2 separate regions of the Homo sapiens genome follow, and region 1 is linked to region 2. The links come from fine-mapping of genetic effects on plasma protein levels. A gene starts in region 2. The other region holds a variant in brackets. All regions are shown on one strand. Distances are from middle to middle.

Region 1 (2,920 bases), 19 kb before region 2:
GCATTTAAGAACCAAAAATCCGGCTGAGCACAATGGCTCACACCTATAATCCCAGCACTTTGAGAGGCTGATGTGAGTGAATCACTTGAGGTCGGGAGTTTGAGACCAGCCTGGCCAAAGTGGTGAAACCCTAGTCTCTATTAAAAATACAAAAAGTTGCCTGTAATCCTAGCTATTCGGGAGGCTGAGGCAGGAGAATCGTTTGAACCTGGGAGGCAGAGGTTGCAGTGAGCTGAGATCGTGCCACTGCACTTCAGCCTGGGCGACAGAGTGAGACTCTGTCTCAAAACAAACAAACAAACAAACAAACAAACAAACAAACAAAAACACCAAAATCCTCTAGTGTTTCTCTCTTCTCTCTTATGTTTTAGGCAAGAAAAGTGAGGTTCAGAAGTGTTAAGTGACTTCTCTAAAGTCTCATAGCTAGATAGTAGCAGGGTTGGGCTTGTCATCCAGGTCTGGGAATTCACTAATCTATCGTAAATTTCCTATTCTCCCATTACCACTGTCCGCCTTATAAACTGAGGGTGTGAGGCAATTGCAGAGAATTCATTTTGGCGGAATTATGTAATTGCCTGGGATTGCATCACACACTTTTTCGATGCAGTGTTCCTTCCTTTGCTTCTTTGTCAAAGGCTACCCTCAAAGACTACATGGTGAACCACTCTCTTTAGCCACCTTAGCCGCTGCTCCCAACTCCCTCTCAAGTATAGGACATGGTCCTATACCTCGGATATGTCAGTAGAGCAGAAGCTCTATGCTAGGTACTTTATACATGCTATTTAATTGTATACTTTTTATGTACTTAATCCTCACAAGCACCTTGCAATTCTTAGCTCCATTTCACAGATGAGAAAACCATGGTTCCTGGAGGTTGAAGAGCTTGCTCTAGTGCAAGAACTTAGAAGAGATCACCCCGACACTGAGAGCCCTTGGCCTCTCTACCATGCCATGATTCCTTCTTGGACAGAATGGAGGTTGCTAATGAAAAATCCTACCCTCACAGGTTGGCAAGGGTGCAGACCAGTGTCCAGAGTCAATGCAGCGGAGCATGTCCAAGCCCCTCACTCTGTAGCCGGGCTGGCACTCAAATTTACAGCTGGAGCCATAGGCAAAAGCAGTGAGCGGATGAACACAGTCCATGGTTCCTTCACTGGGGGCTTCCAGGTGCTGACACTGCACAGCTGGAGAGAATAACCAAGGATAAAGAGAAAGATACTGAGAAAGGAGAAAAGCCACACAGAGAGCAATGGTGGAACCACCTCTGAAATGCAGGTGGAGCTAGCAAGATGTAAAGGTCAAGAGACCCTAATGATGTTTGTCCAGACTTGGATTACCAGTTCCCAGGGTGATCTGAGTCTGTTAAAAACAAAGATTCCTCCAAGCTGTATTCTTAATGTCCTCTATTCCCTATACTTCTATAAACCTGTCTCAGTAGGTCTTCTAGTGTCCACTTATAGATGTAGAGGCCACCCTTTCTAATCTTATGGGGAAATTATGAATGAGGCCATTCTGAAACTGCCTGC[A/G]TTTGTGTTTGGGGAAAGAAAGGAATTTTTTTCCTTTCTCATCTCAGATGAACCCAATCTAGCTGAATGGCAGGTAGGAAGAGAATTAAATTTTGGCAATTCAGGCCAGCTTCTCCATAAGCTGGTCAATTTCATCTATGCACTAAGTAAGGACTGGGTGCAATGGACATTATACATCCCAACTACCTGAAACTCACCTTTACACACTGGGGCTGGGGCTGTCCATACCCCCGAGGCTGTGCATTGCACCACTTCCGGTCCAACTAATGCAAATCCCTCTTCACAACTGAAGCTGCAGCTAGACTGATGCTGGAATGCTTTTGCAGAATGAAGGCAGGTCATGTTTCCTCGTTCAGGAATCTTCAGGGGTGGGCACTGGGCAGCTAAAACCAACCACAGAATAATAGTGTGAGTCCTTGGACAAATTTTGTCCATCACCTTGGAAGCCTTCAAATTCTGCAGCAGTCACACCTTCCCAAAGTGGCAGGCAGGTTGATGCACTAGAATGGTTAAATGGTGTTTTCAATAGCTGCTTGGAAAGATCAAACACCCTTGTTTTTCATGTAGAGAAGTTAGGTAAAATTATCAAATTAATAATTCTTAACCCCTAAGTCCTCATCATTGTACTCTGTTTACTTTACAATTAACAAAGGGAAAGAGGGGTCCCTTTGTAATGTTTTTGCCTGCGAATCAACAATTAAACTGACTAAGTCACTCTACCCATAAAAAAATACCATGAAAATTGAAATTAATGTTACTCTGGTTGACAGTTAACAGTGATAACCAGAGTTTTCCATCTAACCTAGATGGTCATTATTTCTCACATTTTTTAATGGAGAAAGCTCATTGTGTCCTCTTCTCCCCCAAAATTCTATGTCAGTGAGGATGAAAAGAATAAGGTCTACATACCTAAACACTGTGGAGGCTTATTTGTCCAGATTCCAGAAGCCAAGCATTCCAGCTTGCTGGGCCCATTTACTTGGTACCCGTCAGTGCAGTGGAAGCTGCACTGCGAGTTAAAAGAGAAGTTTCCCAGAGGGTGGCTGCAGTTCATGAGCACGTGTTGAGGGAGCTCAAGTTCTCCACACTCTCTCACTGCAGGAGACAAAATAGTGATTTTTATTTTCCATGTAGAATTAACAGCAATGTCATGTTTGCTGAAAGCTGTAACTATTTGTGTAACCCTCTTAACTCTAATTTTCTAAACTTTTAACCCAAGCTATCCATCTCTACTTGGTCTCTTTGTATTGGCTGCATCTTGGGAAATAGTCATTCTTTCACAAGTTTTTACTTCAAACAAGTAAAATTAGCCTGAAAGTTCTGTTGGTTTTGCTTCCTTTCCCTTTCCCTTTTCTTTTTTGAAATTTATGAGTCAATGTTTTCTCCCAAGAATA
Region 2 (2,920 bases):
AAAACAGAGACCTGCCTGGTTCCTCCATAGCCACAGACTGCAGGATTTCGGACCCTGGGACTATGTGGGATACTCTTGGAAAGTCTGAGGAAAATTGGAAGTAGCTTAACCATGTGCATTTTATCTAGGTGCATATAACATTGCTGAGTTCAAAATGCCTAGCTATCCTTGGATCTTCCCTGAATTAGAAGTAGCCTAACCACGTGCATCTTATCCATGAGCATATAACATTGCTGAGTTCAAAATGCCTAGCTATCCTTGGATCTTCCCTGAATCCTAAACCCCACTATTCCTAAGAATTTTCTTTTTATTGTAACAATAATGGCTAACATTTACTAATCACTTACTATGTGTCAGGCTCAGATCTGGATGCTTTTCAGCAAAATCTTATTTAATCCTCATGATGAAACTATAGAGTATTATTACTATATCCATTTTATAGAAGAAGAAACTGAGTCATTAACAAGATTGAGTCTTAGGGCAGAAAAGGAAACTATGTGGATATTCCAGATCAGTCCCAGAAGATTCATAGGCTCACAGAAAGAAATGGGAGGGATGGGGATGAGAAACTATTCAATTGTAAGCTTGTCCCAGGGCACCTACCCAGTCTTCCATTTATTCCATCATTTATCCCAGAGAGAAGTACAGTCTTGGAAAATGGGGTGACAGGTTTACCATGATCTATTCTCAGAGAGCCCCTATAAATTCTAGTAGGAGGAACAGCAGCTGCGGAGCCAGAGGACAGGCCCCAGATCCCAACATCATGTAGCCTAACAGTGAAGCTTAGATAAAACACAGCCTCTGTAAACCACGATGGCTTTATTTGTAAAATAGAAATAGCAACCTCAACTCACAAGGGTGTTGGGAGGGTCAAAGTGGACAGCAAGTTTAAAAGTACTCACAAAATCTAATAGGCAATTCAACATAAAACTCCATGGCTATCGCTGTTCCTCACTTTCTGAACCTTTACCTGCCTGACTTTACTCCATACCACTCCAACTCACTTCAACCACTTCCCATGCAGAAAAAAATAAACTCACCATCTCCTCTGTGACTCTGCTGGTTTTCTGCCTTCTGCCCAACCCAGACTGCTTACAGTCTCACTGCCTCCCCTCAGTGTCAGGCTGTTTAGAAAAACAACTTCCTATTCACATTCCAGAAACTCACCACAGCCCTTCCCATGAAGTTAGAATGTTGATAATGCAAGAGTAATGTTGGCAGCTTAGAAATAGTGGTTGCCAAGAGGCAAGGGGTCACCCCCTTCCATGGAAGATGGTCTGGAGGCAGGCGCAAGGTGAATTACTCCTGGATATCCCAGGCTGAGCAATGTGGGAACAGTACACACACAAAGGTTTCCTTGGATTATGATATAAGCTCCAATTTAAAGTAGTACATTTGGAAAACATGCTTTGAATTAATTACAATGTGATTTTCCAGTGCCCATTTTCCAGTAATTATGACATGTCAGTGAATGTTTACTATTCCGGCAGCCTTCTGAGGGAAAGAAGCAAAATTAGTAGCACAAAAAAAAATAGAGAGAAATGGAAAAAGCCACTAACAGTTTTCTGGCGCTTGGGAAATTTTATTGGTAAGTTTCAAAATGACGTATTAAATAGACATAGGTCATGTGAAAGGAATTCTGCTTCTTATATCAGAAATAAAAAGGTATACAAATAGATACCTTTTTATTTTCCTCTTCCCATGGGATGTGTAGGACCAAAAAGCTGTTGGCATAGTGGTTAAGACTTCAGCTGTGCTGTTAAACTGCCCGAGACCCATCCTGGCTCCTCTTCTGGCTATCTACTGGGCAAACTACTTAAGCTCTCTATGCCTCTGTTTCCTCAACTGTAAAACAGAATAACAGAACTTGCCTCACCGGGTTGTTGTAGGATGAAATGAGTTAATATGTACAGAGTGATTGAAATGACACTTGGCCCACAATTGATGCTCAACAAATGTTAGTGATTATTATTACTTTTCAGATTGATCTCAGACAGCAAAATCAAGTATCAAGTATTTAGTTTCAAGTCAGAAAGCCATAACTCCTATTTATACTCTTGGAATTCTATTGTACAGTAGTAGGTATTATTCTTCATTCACTTCATGATGGTTACAGCTTGTAAATAGGCATCTCATGGATAAATTTAAAATGGAATGAAGTAGAAACATTGGAAGAAAGTCTAAAGGTAAAGATGAATTAGGGTATATAAGGCTGCATTTGCACGTTGGAATTTGGGACCAAGAAGAAAAAATTAATTATATAGTAGAAGTAGAAAAGATGGTGAAGGAAATGCTGTTGAAGGAATGACTGTAGGGGAATAAGGGAAACTTAGAGAGAGGAAAAAATGAGGAACTTCTTGGCAGCATGATGCAGTTCAGAGTCCAGACCCTAGAGTCAGACTGCCTGGCTCCACCACCTACCAGCTGTGTTGGGCGTTACTAATCTCCCTATAACTCAGTTTCCTCAGTGATGTGGTTTGGCTGTGTCCCCACCCAAATCTCATCTGGAATTGTAGCTCCCATAATTCCCACAGGTTGTGGGAGGCACCTGGTAGATCATTGAATCATGGGGGTGGTTTCCCCCATACTGTTCTCATGGTAGTGAATAAGTCGCATGAGAGCTGATGGTTTTATAAGGGGAAACCCCTTTTGTTTGGTTCTCATTTCTCTCTCTTCCCTGCTGCCATGTAAGACGTGTCTTTTGCTTTCTACCATGATTGTGAGGACTCCCCATCCACGTGGAACTGTGAGTCCATTAAACCTTTTTTTTTTTAATAAGTTATCCAGTCTCGGGTATGTCTCTATCAGCATCATGAGAACAGAATAATACACTCAGCAATGTGAATAATAAGGATAATAATCACCAAATACATAGACATGTAAGGACCATTAAATGAATTTAATGTGTTTGGAACAATAC

Which allele goes with the higher level. Alleles are on the strand shown, and positions count from the first base shown. The strength of an association depends on the size of the effect and on how common the allele is.
As copies of G replace A in region 1, the plasma level of the protein whose gene starts at base 1,093 in region 2 goes down (moderate association).

The links. PIP is the chance, under the fine-mapping model, that this variant and not a neighbour inherited with it causes the effect. The UK Biobank Pharma Proteomics Project read protein levels with antibody pairs (Olink). The fine-mapping took linkage between variants from a reference panel, not from the people measured, so its PIPs are less certain.
Region 1: its variant is fine-mapped to the plasma level of the SELP protein (UK Biobank, PIP above 0.99).

The regions. Positions count from the first base shown.
Region 1 is chr1:169,610,494-169,613,413 of GRCh38, forward strand. SELP (selectin P) reads right to left here. Exons shown (of 17, transcript NM_003005.4): 5 at 2,436-2,621; 6 at 1,724-1,909; 7 at 999-1,184. Among named protein-coding and RNA genes, the nearest start is that of SELP, 18 kb to the right of the region's middle. The variant A/G (reference allele first, on the strand shown) is at 1,527.
Region 2 is chr1:169,629,032-169,631,951 of GRCh38, forward strand. SELP (selectin P) reads right to left here and starts at 1,093. Exons shown (of 17, transcript NM_003005.4): 1 at 1,041-1,093. The coding sequence starts at 1,043.